Regions from separate parts of the Homo sapiens genome. Here regions 2 and 3 are each linked to region 1. The links come from fine-mapping of genetic effects on gene expression. A gene starts in region 1. Each other region holds a variant in brackets. All regions are shown on one strand. Distances are between the middles of the regions. Region 1 holds the start of C9orf153 (chromosome 9 open reading frame 153). Region 2 overlaps TUT7 (terminal uridylyl transferase 7). Region 3 overlaps TUT7 (terminal uridylyl transferase 7).

Evidence for each region. PIP is the estimated chance that this variant, and not a neighbour inherited with it, causes the effect.
Region 2: its variant is the best candidate, but not a certain one, in a credible set for the expression of C9orf153 in whole blood (INTERVAL, PIP 0.87).
Region 3: its variant is the best candidate, but not a certain one, in a credible set for the expression of C9orf153 in prefrontal cortex (ROSMAP, PIP 0.78).

Annotation. Positions count from the first base shown.
Region 1 is chr9:86,255,283-86,262,460 of GRCh38, forward strand. It overlaps C9orf153 (chromosome 9 open reading frame 153), which reads right to left and starts at 4,375. Exons shown (of 4, transcript NM_001276366.4): 1 at 4,268-4,375. It also overlaps the pseudogene RN7SKP264.
Region 2 is chr9:86,315,257-86,322,434 of GRCh38, forward strand. It overlaps TUT7 (terminal uridylyl transferase 7), which reads right to left. Exons shown (of 27, transcript NM_024617.4): 14 at 7,069-7,178; 15 at 4,328-4,414; 16 at 3,702-3,802; 17 at 1,963-2,020. Among named protein-coding and RNA genes, the nearest start is that of TUT7, 36 kb to the right of the region's middle. The variant A/G (reference allele first, on the strand shown) is at 3,501.
Region 3 is chr9:86,307,432-86,314,609 of GRCh38, forward strand. TUT7 (terminal uridylyl transferase 7) reads right to left here. Exons shown (of 27, transcript NM_024617.4): 18 at 3,275-3,378; 19 at 2,497-2,586; 20 at 2,032-2,145; 21 at 1,781-1,858; 22 at 998-1,175. Among named protein-coding and RNA genes, the nearest start is that of ISCA1, 28 kb to the left of the region's middle. RefSeq lists an enhancer at 4,909-5,746. The variant A/G (reference allele first, on the strand shown) is at 3,428.

The DNA.
Region 1 (7,178 bases):
TATTTTACCCCCAAAATATCCTTCTTTGATACATTTTGAGGTGTCTGTTCAGAGAGCCAGCAAACAGAAGTAGCCCTGCAAAGTTGTCTTTCGTGGGGAGATTTGCATCGTACACAATCTGCCTTGATGCAGCCTGGCTTCTTCTGAGCCTTCCCTTGTTTGATGTAGGAAAGATTAACTGAGAGTTTGACACCTTTGAAGGTGGGAAACATTTACCATGTATTCTTTCTGAAGGCTGCTACCTGTGAGGTTTCATCTACATAGCAAGACCACCTTTGCTAGCCAGGCCTCCTCTTCTCTCCCTGCCATAACCTGTCATGCACCATAACCTGATTTACCACCATAACTTGTTTTGGGCCATTCTCTGAGCTCCCATTCTCTTCGTAACCTCAAGATGGTATGTAAGCTTCTGTAACCCACTGGGCGTTTGGAGCAATCATTCTGTGGTTCTTTCCTATGTGCACATAAATAAATTCGTATGCCTTTTCTCCAGTGAATCTGCCTTTTGCGAGTTATTTTTTTCAGCAAACCTTCAGAGGGCAAAAAGGACATTTTTCCCTTGGCTCCTACAGGGGTGTTGTTTTCTGAGCCATAATAAGCTCATCTGGCCAGGTCTTATATTTTGCTCAGGGGACTTGGGGAAGGAGAACTTTGATTTAATCTAACACGTTTTTCAGATGTTCATTGTGGCACTTCTTACCCACTTTCACTTATCAGCTGCCTCTGTAAGATCATCACACCTGCAGCTTTGCTTGACGCAGTGAGTCCTGGTTGTGATTCTACAGCATTCTGGAATCATGAGCACAATGTGCATTCACAGATGATTCTGATGCGTGAAATATCCACTACTGTCTTCTCACTTCTTACTTTCACTCTTCAGCTGCTTATGTAAGATCATCATACCTGCAGATTTGCTTGACTCAGTGAGTCCTGGTTGCCATCCTACATCATTCTGGAATCGTGAGCACTATGTGCGTTCACAGATGATTCTGATGTGTGGAATATCCACTACTGTCTCCATCATTATTTTAGGTTTCAATGAATACCTTCGAGCCACTGATTCAATCTAATATAACCCAATAGCAATGATAAAGATTGCAGACTTACTAAACAGAAATAAGCAAATGTTGTGAAAAATATATTAACCAGAATGAACTGTATCCTGCTAATTGAATGTTATTTAAGAACATTTGATTAATGTCATCTTCGTGGAAAATGCTCAACATTTAAATACGCAGGAGCTATTAGGAACAAAATGAGATTTCTGGGAAATCATTACTATGTTATTTTCAATTTATGAAGTGTGACTACAACTGTTTCATTTGGGAAAGGAAAGTAGCTCAGAGCAGTCGGAAGAATCTGAGGAATGCAAAATTTATCAGAGAGACAGGAGAGTCTCATTAACCCTATGCCCAGGGTTAATTGTTTAAAGGCATTTTGTATTTTTCTTCTATTGCCTATAGTTTCCAGACCAGCTGATAAATTACCTAAAATGCTATGAGTTGCACAATGTGACCCTCACCCATATCTTCATTTTTCTGGAATTTGTGATACAAAGAACAGCGCATAGCCAGTCAATAGCTTATACTATTTTGAGTGAGTCACTGTGGCATGCACCTGTAATCCCAGCTACACGGGAGGCTGAGGTGAGAGATCACTTGAGTACAGGAGTTCAAGACCAGCCTGGGCAACACAGGGGGAAACCTTGTCTCAACAAGAAGAAGAAGAAAAAAAGAAGCTTACGGTATTTTAATGAACCAATGTAAATACTTGGTAAACAACTTTAGAACTACCTCTTCTTTTTTCCCTTTAAAAACCCACTTATAATTGCCGATTGGAGCATATATTCTGGGCAACTTGAATCAATGTCCCCAGGGTTGCAGTCCTCAAACTTGGCTCAAATAAGCTCTCTACTTATATTAATTTTGCCTTGGCTTCTTCCTTTAGGCCAACAGATTGCCTTTTCTTCTGAAACCCCAAAGCACCTGTGGCTCACTGCAGCGATTACTGGGTTCCATGCTTTGGGAATGCTAGTCTAAGTGAGAAGACTCCTTGGGGAGGAGATGGGAGCCCATAGGAACCTGAAGATTCCCCTGCAGAACAGCAGGCCTTTTAAGCTCCTCCCTCCTGGCTTTCACTTGTAATCAGTTGGAGGCTCCATCAAGCCAAACAAGACATCTGCCCCTTTTTCAGTTCTCTCAGCTGTCACTTTTCATCTAGACTTCATTAGCTCCTGCCTGGTCTTTCCCCAAAATGCCTAATGGACTTTCCTGGCTGATTTCCTTGATCCCTTACCCTTGAGTCTGGCTGTCTTCCCAGGGGAGCCGCTTGTCTGACATGGCAGCTGGCACAGAGTAGGCACTCAGTAATTTTAGGCCTTCTGCTTTAGTTGTCAGAGGGTGAATTGACAACACGATTGATTGACAGGGAATGCAATTTACTACTGCTGATATAACAACCAGAACTGAAAATATGACAATCAGACTTAGCTCCTCAGAGAGGGGAAAAGTCTGTGGTCTTGGCCAGGAACAGATCAGTTGAGTGGATTTATATACCAACACAATGGATGACAAAGGTGACAGTGTCCTGTCACGATGGCTTCAGGGAATGAGCGGTGTGGGCAGCTCAAACAACCCATCTGGGGCTAACGTGGAGGGGGAGAGAGCTCATCAATCTTGAGCAGATATTAGATGCGGAGGCCAGATTGCTTTCTTGTGTGGGTTTTATAGCTGTGCACATTCAACTATTAAGGACAACCTTTATTACTAAAATTTTTGTAGGACGGGTGCGGTGGCTCACGCCCATAATCCCAGCACTTTGGGAGACCAAGGGGAGCAGATCACGGGGTCAGGAGATCAAGACCATCCTGGCTAACACGGTGAAACCCTGTCTCTACTAACAATACAAAAATTAGCTGGGCATGGTGGTGGGCGCCGGTAGTCCCAGCTACTCGGGAGGCTGAGGCAGGAGAATCACTTGAACCCAGGAGGCGGAGGTTGCAGTGAGCCGAGATCGTGCCATTGCACTCCAGCCTGGGCGACAGAGTGAGACTTTGTCTCAAAAAAAAAAAAAAAAAAAGGAAAAATTAATTTTGTCATAGAGGATGAAACTCTTAATCCTTCCTTTGAAGTAATTACTTTTAGAGAGCTTGTTTGGAGGTTCTAGCAGGGGAGTGCAGCTACTCATATACCCTTGCCCAAAGAACGGCCCTCCTCTGTTGGGGAAGGTTGTCCGCAGCGTCTGGAAGGACGCATGTGGACGGATGAGGGAGGAAGGAGACATCCACCTAGCCAGCCAGATCAGACAAATTAACCCTGGCCATCAGTGGGGTGACAGATGTTGCAGCCAGATCACCCTCACATCCGGAAATAATTGCTTTTAAAACGCAATATTTGAAAACCTGAATTTTCTTGGGTAAGCAACTATTATATTGCTAATTTAACGAAACTTTTTTTAAAAATATTAATATACTTAAATTTTAGAGCAATTTTAGAATTGGTTAGAAAGTACAATGTTCCCACAACCCCCCTTCTCTGCACCATACACACAGCTTTCCCCTTTTTTTTTTACTACTTATGTTTGTGTGGTACGTTTGTTATACTTGATGAGCCGGTATCAATGCATGGTTACTAACTAAAGCCCATACTTCACAGTTTACATTACGGTCCATTCTTGGTGTTGTGCATTCTATGAGATTTCACAATGTGCAATTACATATATCCACTTTGATAGTATCATACAGAGCAGTGTTTTTTTTTTTTCTTTGAGATAGGCTCTCATTCTGTCACCCCAGCTGGAGTGCAGTGGCGTGAACACAGGTCACTGCAGCCTCAACCTCCCAGGCTCAGGTGATCCTCCCATCAGCCTCCCAAGTGGCAGAGGAAAAACAAAGGACACTGGGTGTGAGGGAGAGGTGCAAAGTCAGGACCAAGCATCCATGGGAACACAGGGGAGGATGAAGGCACTGAGGTTGGGGAGAGAGAGCAGAGCTATCAGTGTTGAAGGCCGGAAAGGATGAGGGAGTCTGCAGGCTCGGCCCGATCAACTGGTTCCAGCTTCTGTGACCTGCCTGGAGGAAGATGAAACAGGCTCCTCATCCTTATTGGTAAAGATAAACCCAAATCCCATCTCACCTCCCAGCTCTGGTCTTCCCACCTTAGCCACTGCCCACCTCACTCCATCTCTCCTTGCCAAGCCTAGACTGGCTTAGTTTTCACTGCTCTGTGGTCTCACAGTGCCCCGTGGCTATGGCTGTAGATGCACTTACCACTTGTTTTACAGTTGTCTCTTCACGTGGTCATATCTGTCTTGAGTCTCTGCACTCCCAGGGCAGAGGCTGGGTCTCATTCATCCAGCAGCCCCAAGGCCCAGCCCCACTCCTAGCATGTGTCATTGCTTAGTGTTAAGTGACTGTCCATTGTGACATGTGGACATTCTCAAGGTCACATAAGCAGCTATATGATGCTAAGCGATGGGGAATTATCTTGCTGCTTGGTGGGGGGTGGGAGACGGTGGAGGATGATGGAAAAGCATTTTTAAAGAGTGAACATTGAGTAGCTGAGTAGCTACTTTTTTTTCTGCCTCAGCTTGTGGCTGGGACCCCGGGCGCACGCCACCACGCCTGGCTAATTTATGTATTTTTCTCTAGAGATGGGGTTTCGCCATGTTGCCCAGGCTGGCGTGAGTATAATTTTTTTTTTTTTTTGAGATGGAGTCTCACTCTGTCGCCCAGGCTGGAGTGCAGTGGCACGATCTCAGCTCACTGCAAGCTCCGCCTCCCGGGTTCACGCCATTCTCCTGCCTCAGCCTCTTGAGTAGCTGGGACTACAGGTGCCGTGAATGTAATTTTTAATCAGTCAAGTTTTTCCTTCTATAGACATGGGCAAAGTGCAAATAAGAAATTGAGAGAGATAATAGAAGGTACAGCTATGCTCTTTGCACCTGGCCAGATATGGGTAGAAGTGGACCAGGGGCTACCTGGCTGTGCAAATTCTCTCCATGAGCCATGCAGCCGTGCTCCAGACTCCATTCCCCACCCATGGGAGGTCCCTGTGGCAATCACTGAAAATTTTCCTGAAACAGCCATTTCCCCAGAATGCAATCTACTGGGCATTTAAATAGTCTGATTGAGTTAATAACTTGTGAACACCGTGGCAACATATCCATAACATGAAGCTTACCGTGTTAAGCCGTTTTAGGTACACAGTTCTGTGGCATTCAGTACATTCACATTGTTGTGCCACCTGCACTGCCTTCCATCTCCAGAGCTTTTTCATCTTTTCCACCTGAATCTGTGTCCATGAAATAAATTTCTCACCCCCTGTCCCCTGTCAATGGACACCTGGGTTGTTCCTACCTTTTGGCTATTGTGAATAATGCTGTTATGAACATGGATATACAAGAAAGTTAATAATTTTAAGCAGAATTTAATAAATACAGAAGATTCTTCCAATGAGAAAATATTTCAAAAGCCTGCCATTCAAAGGTGTTCTGCAGAGCAACAGCACTGGCTTCACTTGGGCCTTTGCTACTAATGCAGAATCTCAGGCTCTGCCCTGGACCTTTGTTACAGAATCTGCTTTTTTTTTTTTTTTGAGACAGTTTTGCTCTGTCACCCAGGCTGGAATGCAGTGGTGCCATCTCATGTCACTGCAACCTCCCCACCTCCCAGGTTCAAGTGATTCTCCTGCCTCAGCCTCCTGAGTAGCTGGGACTAGAGGCGCCCACCACTATGTCTGGCTAATTTTTGTGTATTTTTAGTAGAGATGGGGTTTCACCATGTTGGCCAGGCTGGTCTCGAACTCCTGACCTCAAGTGATCCACTCGCCTCAGCCTCCCAAAGTGCTGGATTACAGGCGTGAGCTACCTACTGCGCCCGGCCAAGAATCTGCTTTTTAACAAGACCCCCAGGTGACTTATTTGCACCTTAAAGTTTGAGGACTGCTTCAAGACATAGAATCCATGGAGAACAAAAAATGAGTACTTTATTTTTTATTCTTTTTTTTTTTGAGACAGGGTCTTGCTCTGTCATCCAGGCTGGAGTGCAGTAGTACGATCTTGGCTCACTGCAACCTCTACCTCCTGGGCTAAAGTGATCCTCTCACCTTGGTCTCCTGAGCAACGGGGACTACAGGCATGTACCACCATGACCAGCTAATTTTTGTATTTTTTGTAGAGACGGCGTTTTACCACGTTGCCCAGGCTGGTCTTGAACTCCTGGGATCAGGTGATCTGCCCACTTTTGCCTCCCAAAGTGCTGGGATTACAGGCTTGAGCCAACACACCTGGCCCAATAAATGGGCACTTCATCATGAAAAGTTTCGGAATCACTAGCTAGTGGAAGTAAAAGCAGTAACCCATCAAGGCCCTCAAAGTAGGCTAGTTTTAAGCTGAGTACCGCTGGTACAGAGCCCTTGCCCCGCTAAAGGTTGGTGTGAAATGAAGCCTTCCCTGAACACTGCACAGCAGCAAGGGAGGATGGGAGTCCACAGTGATGTAACCACCACATGGCTCTGTATTTCAATAGAGGCTGAGGCTAGGGTGCACCTCCCTCTCTCCTCCATCTCTTGTCTGATGAGACCCACCTGGGACCAGGAGATTGAGTTCCTACTGGGGAATGAGCTTTCAAAACAGCTCCTCAATTAAGGCAGGTTTGTCTATAGTTAATCAGCTACTAAGAGAATGAAATTTCTCCGAATGTTTATATTTGAAATTTATGGTTCTTTTCAAAGAAGTTACTGTGGTCTTTTATTTGAAGGAAATACAGCAAATTTCCCCCAGATTTGAATATGGGACAATAACTCCCTAAATGTGTTGAAACTCTTTCCCTAAGCTCTTGCTTTGATTGATAATCCATTAACATATTATCCCTTTTTGCACAAGAAAATGGCTAAAAGGGACAAGAATTACAACGTATGAAACGTCTACCCTTAGCAGGATGCCATTTATGTGTAGTTAGCTCATCACATCCCCCCAAATTCTGAGACTGTTTTACAGAAGGTTACATGGCTACAAAATGACAGGAACCATGATTCAAATCCAGGCATATCTCACCCCAAACCTACACCTTTCCAGGCCAGCCTCCCAGCCTGCACTGAGCTCAGGTGAGCTGTATTTGGGTTTATTCTGGGTCGATGCTGTGTCTGGCCCATGCCACGTCTGCTCTAAGGCTCAAATGA
Region 2 (7,178 bases), 60 kb after region 1:
AGGCAATCTGCATTCCATTATTATTATAAATCATCTGTGTGCCTAAGTCATTTCTAATCTAAAAATGATCTGTTTTTAACATCGTTCCTTCTTAGGAAATATATACTGAGGTATTTAGGGGAAAGGACATAATGTCTATAGCTTAATCTCAAATGGTACAGGAAGAAATTGAGAGCAAGCAAAAGATGGAATGATGAATCAAATATGGAAAATGTTAATTGGTGGATCTGAATAAAAGTTATATGTGGAACTCTTTATGCAACTTTTGCTGCTTTCCTTTAAATGTGAAATTAAATTATTTCAAAACACAAAGTTAAAATCTAGCTCAGTACTAAAAAATTAATAGTCACGCTAACTTAGTACTTCAGTTTCTTTGCACGACCTTCAAAACAAAACAAAACAAAACAAAACACATGATCTTTAGAGGTGGAATTCCCAAGTTAAGGGAAATGTTTACTTCAATGACCAAAGAAAAGTATATCAATGCACTTTTTTTCTTTTTTTTTTATATTGTTCTGCCCTCTGTGAACAAATCAATGTACATTTAAAAAAACAAAGCCTAACCCAATTTCTGTATACTTTAGGTTAATTTTTATTGGGAATAAACCAAAATTAAGATTTTTTTTCCTCCTGTTATTTAAACAACATGGTATGTACTTTATTAACTCCTGGGGAAAAAATTTCAAAGAAAAGTGGCACCCAAGGTGTATATATGTGTGTGTCTAGGTGTGTGTGCACGTTCATGCTGTGACTTAAAGTCTGTTCCTAACCGAAATGTACAAAAACTTTTCATGGACAGACCATGGATTTTAAGTTCCTGAGGATAGGGGCCATATATTGTTCACTTTCATTTTCAGCTCTTAGCACAGAAGTTTGCTGAACTACATTTTAAAAGAAGATTTTTCACTGTTAATGGTATCCATAGCTGCCATGACAACAAAAGGATACGTTAACAGCATTTCAATTCTGTGCATGGTTTACAAAATCTATACATTTTATAGCTGTAAATACTCTAGAATAATTATCCAGTCCAGTTGCCTCAATTTATCAATGAAAAAAAGAGATCAGGCCAAGCGTAGTGGCTCACACCTGTAATCCCAGTGCTTTGGGAGGCCAAGGCACTTGAGCCCAGGAGTTCAGAGACTAGCCTGGACAACCTAGCAAGATCCCATTTCTTAAAAAAAGAGATCGCTTCAAGTGAAGGACTTGTTCAGGGTCATATACAGCTTGTTGAGCAGAACAGCTGCAAATTCAACCCACAAGCCCAGTCCGGGGTGCTTTCCTTGACACTTCACACAATTAGCAACTCCTACACTTTGACTTATACAACGCCAACAAAGGAAAAGGATTTATAGCCTTTCTTGCCTGTCTGGCGTAGGCTTTGTCTTGAAATAAAACTGAGCTAGGCAACAATATGCATATAAATTATCACCAATTCCTCAGTCTTTCATACTTACGCATACAAGATTTTAAAAAGACATTAATATTGCAATTATTCTATGAATGAGCCACTATACTGCTTCATGGCATTAATAAACTCTAAATACAATTGGCCTTTCATGTCTGTGGGTCCTGCATCCCCATATCCAATCAAACACAAACCAAAAATATTTAAGAGAAAAAAGCAACTAATAAAAAACTAACGATACAACAATAAAAAAATACAAATAAAAAATACAGTATAACAACTATTTACATAGTATTTACACTGTATTAGGTATTATAAGTAACCTAGAGATGACTAAAACTATATGGAAGGATGCATATAGGTTATATGTAAATACTATGCCATTTTATATAAGGAACTTGAGCATCTAAGGATTTTTTTTATCTGCTGGGGAAGGGAGGGTTGAGGGGTGATGGGTGGGCCTGGAACAAATACCCCATGGATACCAAGGGAAGACTATAGAAAACACTAATTAAAAAGTCAGAAATATTTTTAGAAAAAGTTTACAGAGGTACCTGAATGTTTTCTGAGGACTCTTGCTAATTCTTCAATAGTTCTGACACAGTCCAATCCCTACAACAAAGAAGGCATAAAGAACTTAACCAAAACTGGAAGACAGGTTCTGAAACTGGCTATAGTTTCCATTACCTTCAGAAATAATGTAATTAATTTCAAGTCAGTCTATATCTATTTTTTTCCTTTCTAGTTGGGTATTAGAGTCAGTATTCACAGGAAATATCCTGACGGTACAAAAACCACTAAATACCCTACTTCCTAATTGTTTTTGGGTGTGCAACAAAGGCTAAAATCAGTCAGGAAGCTTATGGACCTAGGGCTTCCAAAAAAGTCTCTGAACCATGGTTGAGGACCTTCATTTCTTCCCCTCCACATAATATCACTCGGATGTACCCCATGTCCCAGAATAAATGAGAGGAGGCTTCTGTGCCCCAGCTCATTCATTCTAAGCAGACCTTCTATAGTTTAAGAGTTGATGAATTGCTGTGGAGAGTGATTAAGCTCAAATTATTTCCCTATAGGACTAGCCAGAATTATAATGCATATAACTAAAGTCATACAGCAAATATAAATAGTATTTGATAAATCATTCTTAAAAACATTTGGGCTGACTCAACATACGCCTTTTTGATGGTTATAAAAATCCCAGAACATACGTGGAATGTTACTTTAGAAATGCCCTCAAAACTAGTTTATAAGCCATGTAAAAAAATAAATAAATAAATAAACCTTGAGGATGTATGATAGGGTCATTCCATATGTTGAGCCAATCTTGCTTATATACTTTATTCAAATTCAGGCTAGATCACTTTTGACTATTTTCCCAAATCAGATACATCCTCAAAATAGAAAGACTTGAAACTAAGAAAAGGTACAAAAAGGTCTTCAGCAACAGCAGCATCATTCATTTGGATATTTAGCATTTGGACTGCTGTTAAGGATTTAAAAGAATAGGGACTCAGCACTTCCTAGACTTTATACCTTTATATAGTGTTTTATATTTTATAAATGCCTTCAGATATCCCAGGGGCTGGCAAGTTTGTTTTGCTTTGCACGCCATATGGTCTCTTACAACTACTAAACTCTGTACTTAAGAGTGAAGGCAGCCATAGACATTACATATGTGAATGGGTGTGATTCTGTCCCAATAAAACTTTATTTACAAAAACAGGCAGTGGGGGGCTGAATTGCCCAAGGGCCATCGTTTGCTAACTCCTGACCCACATGATCCATGATAATGTGTACAAAAATCAGCGGAGGCAGGAGGAACAGATATTATACTTTATCGATTATTTACCAAAGACCACATGTTTAGGTACTGATGAAACAAGTTTGTCTCAAATCCAGGCCTCTGGACTCTAAGGTTAGTACTCTTATGATTTACCACACTGCCTGTCTGGTAACAAACTTTACAGGTAACCTTATGTGAGTGTGTGATCCAAGTCAGCATAGTAGCCAAGCCAATGGGACACTGAAGAGGCTGGTTTGGCTATGTAGAATTCCCAGGCAACACTTTCCAATCCACTTTTTGCTACAG[A/G]GTGAAAGTATAACCTTTCTGCTCCTCACATTCCTCACAACCTTTCCAAGCCTCTTAATGTATTTGGCCAGAGACTGTGCCAAACAGCACACTCTATATGGTATGCCCTGATAAATTTGGAAAATACCAAGCTGTAATGCCAGTCTAGATTGGTTAAATCACACTGCCACAGCAAATGGAAGTTTTATGTGGTCACTGTACCTCAGCAGTTTCAAGTCCATTAATTGTCATACAGACGTCAAGGTCACTCTGTTTGAACCCAAATCCATTTTTGGAGGAGCCAAACAGGCTCAATTTAGTTCCTGTTAGGGATATATGAAAAGTAATAACTAATTACCTGAGTACATTTAATTTTTGATCAAAATGGCCCTCTCATGAATCAAAAACACCCAGTTGTTTAATTATCCTATATTAATCTCATACTTATGTTCTCTGATTAACTGGTCATTTATGCTAAAGTCTTTTTCTCTCAAAGCTTCCTTTACATACAAGCTGTATATGGCAAGAAAGATTACCAGGTGCTCCTTTATTCTTAAATGCAAAGACATTTCAAGGAAAATGTTAGATCACCTCAACACATTTAATAATGTAAGCTTAACTTTGACTCTAAACATAGTATTAAATGAAATTCACTTATGGCACTTGCTAGAATAAACCCTACACTGTTTCTGTTGGTAAATGAGGATTTGGCAGACCAAGGACCATCCTGGGTATATTGCAAAACAATGGAAATCCTGATTCTCAAAATCAGTGTGCTTGTAACACATGAACTGATTTGGAAAAAAGGTTACACTACTTTTCTTAAAAATAAAAAATAAATCATTTACCTGGAAAGTCCTGTCTTATGAAACTTTCTAGGTTTTGCCGAATATGTTCACGAGCCTGATCTTCTATAATTGTTGGAGAAAAATCCTCTGTTTAAAAATAAATAGACATATTGACAAAATAAGCCGGTTGACACTCTTAGAAAAAGCTGAAAAAAATTTATTTTTTAGAAAATAAAACTTACAAGCTTAAATTTAAAAATTCCTAAATCATTGTGTCTTCTCAGTAGATAGCATTAACAAGGTAAAGTTTGTTTTTTATTTATTTTTGAGATAAGGTCTGGTTCTGTCGGCCAGGCTGCAGTGCAGTAGTGTGATCTTAGCTTACTGCAACCTCTGCCTCCCAGGCTCAAGCCATCTTCCCACCTCAGCCTCCCGAGTAGCTGGGACTATAGGCATGTACCACCATGCCTGGCTAATTTTTGTAACAGTAATGTAAAATTTAAGATGTCCTTTTTTAAAGAATCTAAGAAGTGCTCTTGAAACGGAAAGTAATTTAAACATGGGATCTCCACCTGGGTTTCCTGAAAGACACCAGGGTTACAGAAAGGGCCTTCAGAAATCACCACCCCGCTAAAGTGTGAATTTAAAAGTTTGTGAGCATTTGCATGTATTTTTTTCCCTAAGGAGAACCTAGTTTTTTTAATAGCTCATAATATAAAAAAAAAAAATTTCCCAAAAAAAAAAAAAAAAGGACTTGTTAAGAACACGTGTCTTCTGACACGGATGAACACCTTATGATGAAGCCATGTGAAACAAGTTCCTTCATTTTAAGCAGCTGAACATCTATCCTTTAAATATTTTCTTTTGTAAAACTTTAAGGCTCTCTACACCAATGCTTCCCCAAATTTGTGTTCCTTAAAGGGCTGTTAAGTAGGCTATTAATTAGCGTTACTCAAAAATTATTCTATGTTCAAATTTTAGAAATAATATTTCTCAGATACCTTCAATATGCTAATATGTCCTGGAAATAACCCAGGAATTCTAAGAGAGAAGGGAGTGTGTAGTGTTATTCCCTCGCTGGCCTAGGTATACTTCTGGTGATGAAATATTATTAACTGCCATCTAGAAAAACATTTCAAAGAATGCCAGCTGGGAAATGCTACTACTCTAATTTTAAGACTTAATAAAAGATCCTCAGCAAGGCAACTTTCGGCCCCTCACAGAGACAGTACTTTGAAATTCATATTGAGATTTTACCCTCTCTTCCAACGATTTTGGGAAAATTATGAACTGAGACTCTTCAGAAAATATCTTTCTTCTGGAAAAAAATGTCGCTCCCTTACCCTCATCCTTACTTTGTATCCTGGCTTATAACAGGCCATGCATTTTTGTAGCAAACTTTTCAAAAACAATTATATAACCTGGTCCCTTCTTTCTGGGGCCTGGATCTGCTTACACAGCAGGAAGAATAACACCACCAACCTTTACATAGCCCAGCTAGCCAGGGAAGTGTGTCCAGGCTTCAAGTAACTTGAATTTTAATTTTTGGCCGGGAGCGGTGGCTCACGCCTGTAATCCCAGCACTTTGGGAGGTCAAGGCGAGCGGATCACTGGAGGTCAGGAGTTTGAGACTTGCCTGGCCAATATGGTGAAACCCCATCTCTACTAAAAAAAAAAAAAAAAATTAGCTGGACATGGTGGTGCATGACTGTAATTCCAGCTACTCAGGAGGCTGAGGCAGGAGAATTGCTTGAACCCAGGAGGTGGAGGTTGCAGTGAGCTGAGATCGCACCACTGCACTCCAGCCTGGGTGACAGAGCTAGACTTTGTCTCAAAAAAAAAAAAATTTTTTTTCTTGGCAGAGTAATGGAAAATTTAAATGGGGAAAGATATTTAATACTAAGCTTTAAAAAGAAACCTGCTGGCCAGGCGCCATGGCTCAAGCCTGTAATCCCAGCTCTTTCGGAGACTCAGTTGGATGAATCACTTGAGGTCAGGAGTTTGAGACCAGCCTGGCCAACGTGGTGAAACCCTGTATCTACAAAAAATATAAGAATGAGCTGGGTGTGGTGATGCATGCCTGTAATACCAGCTACTTGGGTGGTTGAGGCAGAAGAATTGCTTGAGTCCAGGAGTTAGAGGCTGTGGAGAGCTGATATTGCGCCACTGCATTCCAGCCTGGGGGACCGAGCAAGACCCTGTCTCACCATCACCCTCCAAAAAAGGAAACCTGCTATGATTGCTATGTATCTTGATGCAACAACTATGCTGTTAATAAAAGGAAGTACAGAAGGCACTTGATATTAAAAGAAAAATAAAAGATCCTCCATTTGCCTGAGCCCAGGAGTTCAAGACTAGCTTGGGTAACACAGGGAAACTGTGTCTCTACAAATAATGAAAAATTTAGTCAGGCATAGTGGCATGCATCTGTGCTCCCAGCTACTTGGGAGGCTGAGGTGAGAGGATTGCTTTAGTCTGGGAGGTCGAGGCTGCAGTGACTCATGATTGCTCTGCTACACTCCAGTCTGGGTGACAGAATGAGATCCTGTCTCAAAATTTAAAAAAAAATTTTTTTTTAAATAAAAAAGATCCTCCCTGCATCTCTCCTCATCCTTCTTTGACATTTATTGCATGTCCCAAACAGAACAGACATGACATGGAACGCTTGAGGATACAATGGAGAATGGAATAGACTTGGTCCCTAATAATGTTTAGAGACCTAAATAGGATAGTGATTCTAAAGACTCGAGTAAATGTCAATTTAATATTTTGACAAATCAAAAGAAATGTGAATAACTTACTATAACACTGGATACAGACTTGATCTAAGATATTTAAAAACTTGGGTGTTAATGGTGGCAGAGGTTCTAGCTGGATTCTTTTGAAGTCTTCAGGACAGTCCTTCTTTAGA
Region 3 (7,178 bases), 52 kb after region 1:
ACAAAAGTTCATTGTATTTTAATACTGCCAATAGGCAGAAATAATAATAAAACCACAACTTAGAATAGTACGTATTATTTATGTGATACAAACATATTAAAAGATAAACATTTAAAAATCTTATTAAAATTAAAAAAATATTTCTTAGGTCATTTCTCAGCTAAAGCATTTAAATTCCATTTTGTCTTAAAATAAGAATCCCACAAATTGGAAATAAACAATCAACTATTAGCATCAATGGCTCCAATAGATCACTACATTCAATAGAAAAAGATAAGGTGGCCAGGCGCAGTGGCTCACATCTGTAATCCCAGCACTTTGGGAGGCCGAGGTGGGTGATCACCTGCGGTCAGGAGTTCAAGACCAGCCTGGCCAACATGGTGAAACCCCATCTCTACTAAAAGTACAAAAATTTAGCCAGTTGTGGTGGTGGGTCCCTGTAATCCCAGCTACTCAGGTGGCTGAGGCAGGAGAATTGCTTGAACCCAGGAGGCGGAGGTTGCAGTGAGCCGAGATAGCGCTACTGCACTCCAGCCTGGGCAACAAGAGCGAAACTCCATCTCAAAAACTAAAAAATAGAAAAAGAAAAGGCTTCCATATGGTCAAAATAAATGTCAAAATTTATATACAATTACTTATAGGTGAACTCCATCAATAGCGAATGAAGATCTTGAAAATTCACTTAGCGGCACTCTTCAAACCCCCCAACAGGAAGGTTGTAGAAGTCCCACTTTCTTGAAGCTGCCTTATCACTACTGCTGCCTTATCCTTCAGTATGTGTCCAACAATAGCAAAAAATTTGTCATGGTGAAATGGCTTCAGTCATTTAAAAAACAAATCTTAAGGCTGGAAAGAGAAAAGTTGGCCTGGTATGGACAATGAGACTGGGGCACTGCACACCCCAAGCAGCTGGAAGAGCTCTGCAAGGAGGAAGAACAATGTCCTTATAGTTCAAGCTCTATAGTCTATTCGACTTCAAGTTTAATTTTATTCGTACCTTCAATAACAATGTATTTTGAGGTCCACTGTTTCTTAAAAGTTGTAAGCAGACTTTTTCTCCTGATGCTAATAACATGTTCTTTAAAATCAAATTCCTCTGTGTAGAAACGAAGAAGGCCCAACCATAACTGCCCAACAGATTCTGTATTTTTTCCACATTCTGACCAATAGGTAGGCTAGAAATAGAAGGGAACAAGGGATACCATGGTCTTTAGTGAAGTGTTAATATCAATATTCATTTGTATTTTAGGGAGTAAATTTGGATTTATTTCTAATTAACTAGAGCTCAATTATGCAACTTTTCTTTCATATTTAAAAACATAATTTACATAAGTTTATTAATCTCTACTCTGTGACTTGGAGTAGGAAGAGCTCAGAGTTTTCAGTGTCAAGTCTCAGAACATATTAGTCAGAAGATCCAGAAATAGATTCTAAGAGCCTTGGTAATACGTAGGTTATTAGATCTCTTTAGCTCATTGAAAGTCTTTCTAAACTCTGGGTACAAAAACCACAGAACAAATATTCATTCACTTGGAATAAAGTTACTTAACCATTTGGAATTATTAGGCATTAAAGAAATACTGGATATAGGCCCTAGAAATTCACTTGGCTTAGTAAAAATATTTTCACATCAAAGAAAGCATCTGAAAACACTATTTTTTTTACTATCATAAGATATATAAATACAACAAGCAATAAAATAGTTGTTGAACATCTACACTGTAGTATAGCTAATTTTTAGTCAAGGATATAGGAAAATCTTTACTCTTAAAATACGTACCAGTTCATCTATTTGATCAAAAAAATAAATATTCCAGCCATCAACAAATATTTCAGGTTTCTTTTCACCTTTGTATATCTGAAATTAATTTTTAAACTATTAGTATGGATTACAAACTTAATGCATTGATACAAAAACTTCTAGGAAAATAGGTAAAAAATTAACTACAGAACCACAGAATTTTAGAGGAGGAGAAAGGCTCAGAGATCACCAGTTTTCCAGATAAGAAATACAATTTCATTCACTAATACCTCTTGAAGGACAGGAATGACTGGTGGATTCCTCTGCTGGAGAAAATATAGCACCATAAGAGTATATGCATACGATGATAAGCTGCCTCTAGATGCATCACCAATATCACACATCTAGACAGAAGGAAAACCAAGAACAAAGGAAAGGTCTGTTTTCTGCTAACTTTGCATCCATTCTGTTATCACTAAAAGTAAAGTGCATATTTTGAGAACTAATATAAAAATCACATTGTCAAAGGCAAAACCAATCCAACCTAGCAAAGCAGTGGACAGCTGGCTACGTGCAAGATCAGGTCATTGTATAAAATTCAGAACAAAATTTTAGCTTTCTTCATAGGGTCTCCCAAATAGCTACATGAAGCATTTCACATGACTACAGTTCATTAAAAAATAGATTTATGTTTTCAACAGTGTTTAAAGATGCAATGAAATTTCCTGATAAGTCACAATAGGAAGCATACTCACCTTTGTAAATACTTTCATGGTATAGCACAAATACTTCACTCTGGGATCAATGGCGGAATAAGCAGATAAAAGCCTTGTGTTATGAAGGGCCTGTTAAAAGGAAAATAACACTATAAGACTAACAATGAAGTGTAAAGGGTCTCTTTTTTTTTTTTGGTTGTTGTTTTAAATAATGGAGATGGGATCTCACTATGTTGCCCAGGCTGGTCATGAACTCCTGGGCTCAAGTGATCCTCCCCCATCAGCCTCCCAAAGTGCTGGGATTACAAGCATGAGCCACCATGCGAGCCTAGATGAAAAGATTTTAAACTGGAATATTTTAAATAGGTTTACAGTCTGATTCATTTTAGGAAGAAGACATTTCAACTGAAATTAACCTTTTTTTTTTCCCTAAAGACAATCTTCATTAACTTACTAGATAATAATAAAGAATTATAAGTAACATCTGACCTCATGGCTTTTATACGTCCTTGGTCTGAACATCTAGAAAATAAGGGCTGGTGAAATAAACAATCAGTTCCCTTTCAGTAGATATAAGATCTCTCTGCACAAACACCCCTAAAGGGTCAGAGAGGTCCTATAAATCCCTGAAACATATCTGAATTATCTTAGAATCCTCAGCCTCAGAACACTGCCAGGTTCACAGCAAGTAAGCATAATAACTCTTGAAAGATTCACTAAGATGAAATGAATGTGACTTCTTTAACTTGAGGTTTTTGCAAGGTGAGACATTTGTTCCCTTAACCTCTCTAAACAAAAAGCCTGAAAAAAATCTTACCAATGTGTTATACAAACTGATATCTACTTCCAGACCACTTCTCAAATGGAAGAACTTCACAATTGGCACCTTTGCTGTTGTAATAGGTAAGATGTTTCTCAGACCTAAGTTGGGAAATAAAATGTTATCATTAAATACAGCAGCTGGGGATAT[A/G]AGTAACTCTTATGTTAATGTTCCAATATAAAATGGTGTAAACCTAACTTTGGCCTGTTTCATTGCATTCATTAGGACTTGTCAAAGAATTCTGTTATTAACAAACATCTGGGAAGATTAGTCTGGCAAAGTTTACATTTATTAAACATATTGATATTAGAACTACAAGAATCAAACAGTCACTCCCCTCTGGGAACTTACTGGATCGTATGTGCACACGTGTGCATGTGTGTATATGCATGTGTATGTCGTTGTCACTAAGACAAATACCAAACAGAGGAAACTACTATAGAGTCTGAACTATGTGGTTCCCACCTGTTCTCTCCATGTGACTATATCTAATTTGGAGAACAGCCTAAGGGACGATTATCCTCCAAACAAGTTACTCACCTTAAAGCTAGAAGTTATGAAGTTAATAGGAATTAACTTCAATAGGAGAGAGGAAATTGCCTGAGCTAAGCTTTGAAAAAGAGGGAGAAAAACCAGCAAAAATAGTGGCAGTTGAGCAAATTTACCAGGCAAGGCAAACTGTACACAAAAAGTGTAGATGCCTGAAATAGAATGGTACGTTCAGGGAAGTTCCAGAGAATTGCATAGGTTGCCGAATGAACTTGAGGGAATGGAATATGAGGCATAGGAGATGGTGGAGAAACTGGGAAAGGTCCAACTACAGAACATACACATTTTGCTAAGAATTATCCTTAGTCCTCTCCCTCTCCCTCTCCCCTCTTCCCTCTCCCCTCTCCCCACGGTCTCCCTCTCCCTCTCTTTCCACGGTCTCCCTCTGATGCCGGTCTCCCTCTGATGCCGAGCCGAAGCTGGACTGTACCGCTGCCATCTCGGCTCACTGCAACCTCCCTGCCTGATTCTCCTGCCTCAGCCTGCCGAGTGCCTGCGATTGCAGGTGCGCGCCGCCACGCCTGACTGGTTTTCGTATTTTTTTGGTGGAGACGGGGTTTCGCTGTGTTGGCCGGGCTGGTCTCCAGCTCCTAACCACGAGTGATCCGCCAGCCTTGGCCTCCGGAGGTGCCGGGATTGCAGACGGAGTCTCGTTCACTCAGTGCTCAATGGTGCCCAGGCTGGAGTGCAGTGGCGTGATCTCGGCCCGCTACAACCTCCACCTCCCAGCCGCCTGCCTTGGCCTCCCAAAGTGCTGAGATTGCAGCCTCTGCCCGGCCGCCACCCCGTCTGGGAAGTGAGGAGCATCTGTGCCTGGCCGCCCATCGTCTGGGATGTGAGGAGCCCCTCTGCCTGGCTGCCCAGTCTGGAAAGTGAGGAGCGTCTCTGCCCGGCCACCATCCCATCTAGGAAGTGAGGAGCGCCTCTTCCCGGCCGCCATCCCATCTAGGAAGTGAGGAGCGTCTCTGCCCGGCCACCCATCGTCTGAGATGTGGGGAGCGCCTCTGCTCTGCCGCCCCGTCCGGGATGTGAGGAGCGTCTCTGCCCGGCCGCCCCATCTGAGAAGTGAGGAGACCCTCTGCCTGGCAACCGCCCAGTCTGAGAAGTGAGGAGCCCCTCAGCCCAGCAGCCGCCCCGTCTGAGAAGTGAGGAGCCCCTCCGCCCGGCAGCCACCCCGTCTGGGAAGTGAGGAGCGTCTCCACCCGGCAGCCACCCCATCCGGGAGGGAGGTGGGGGGGTCAGTCCCCCGCCCGGCCAGCTGCCCCGTCTGGGAGGTGAGGGGCGCCTCTGCCCGGCCGCCCCTACTGGGAAGTGAGGAGCCCCTCTGCCCGGCCACCATCCCATCTGGGAGGTGTACCCAACAGCTCATTGAGAACAGGCCATGATGACAATGGCGGTTTTGTGGAATAGAAAGCGGGGAAAGGTGGGGAAAAGATTGAGAAATCGGATGGTTGCCGTGTCTGTGTAGAAAGAGGTAGACATGGGAGACTTTTCATTTTGTTCTGTACTAAGAAAAATTCTTCTGCCTTGGGATCCTGTTGATCTGTGACCTTACCCCCAACCCTGTGCTCTCTGAAACCTGCTGTATCCACTCAGGGTTGAATGGATTAAGGGCGGTGCAAGATGTGCTTTGTTAAACAGATGCTTGAAGGCAGCATGCTCGTTAAGAGTCATCACCACTCCCTAATCTCAAGTACCCAGGGACACAAACACTGCAGAAGGCCGCAGGGTCCTCTGCCTAGGAAAACCAGAGACCTTTGTTCACTTGTTTATCTGCTGACCAGATAAACAAGTTTATTATGCTGCTCCACTATTGTCCTGTGACCCTGCCAAATCCCCCTCTGCGAGAAACACCCAAGAATGATCAATAATAAATAAATAAATAAATAAATAAATAAATAAATAAATAAAAAGAATTATCCTTAGAATCAAAGAGGAGCCAATGAACTGGTCTAAGTTGGGAGGAATCACTGACCACATCTAGTTAGACAATAACCCTGGCAGTGGACAGACTGGAGGCACCAGGAACAGAGGCAGGGTGACCACTTATGAAAAACAACTGGGTGTGAACTTTCATGGTGGCATGGGAATACACAGAAGAAGCAAGGCATGTTTGAGAGCATCTGTAACTGGATGGGAAGCTAGGGGTAGTAAGAGAGGATCAGGGCTTTCAGAGTAAGAGTTACCACTTCCTGAGCACCTAATGTGTGATAGGGATATGTGAAGAGTCCTTTACAAACATTACCTCCTTAGGTTTATCACCCTCATCTTACAGATGAGGAAACAGAGACCCAGAAAGATTCACTAGCTTAGGAATATGCAGCTGGTAAATTGTGGAGCCGGAATTCAAATCTAGGTAAGATTGACTCCCAACTTATACTGAACCTAGTGTGGGTCAGGCTAATTATCATTTCACCCGTTTTATTGATTCCAAGGATGCCAATATCAACAACCATGAAAAAGGATTCACAAGGAAGGGCAGATTAATGGAGTTGGTTCCTGCAGAAGGGAAGCGGTAAAGTGAAAGATAAGCTCATTCTGAGATGTCAGAGTTTGAGTTTCTTCTGAGAGAGCTAAGTGGTGGTTCCTAAAAAGCAGATACATAGTGATCACATCATAGAACACAGGAGAAAATAAGTAGGTAGAAGACATTTCAGGAAAAAATCTGTGTGGCAGACAGAGGAAATGAAACTTAATCTGATGGGGAAAGGGGGCAAGGAAGCTCACTTTACTGAATACTTAGAATATGCTAGGCTTTGCACTTTACGTATTATCTTTCTTAAATGCCATAGAATTGTTATTTCCACTTTAGAGATGAGGAACTGAGTGCTTGTTATGAAGCTGAGTGACTTTTTGGGATTGCACAGCCAGCAAGGGGGAGACAGAATTTAAAATCAGAGTCTGATTCCAGAACCTCCACCTAGTACTTTGCTATCTCGCCTCTAAATTAGACAGAGGCCCTTTTCTTCACATCCTTCCCATTCTGGAATTTGACACTGTTGATCATTACCACACTTCAAAGTCTCGGATTTATTCACAGCATATCTTCCCAGTTCCTTTTCAGTCTCTTTTCTTAATTTCTGTCTAGTCTCTTTCTCTCAATCTCTCTCTTTTTCTTCAAGGCTTTCAATGCAAAAAAACTGTTTTATTTTCATCTTCAATTCTGACTGGCAACCCCATATTTCTAATTGTTTTCTGGAATGTTAAGTCTTGGAGATTATATGCTCATGGCAAACTAAACACTTTCACACAGGTGTTCTCTGCAAACATTCCTGGTTCTCAAATAACCCAGATAGTGACCTCAATCCTTACTTCCTACTTGCAGGTACCAAATCTAGGAAATTTTCCCACT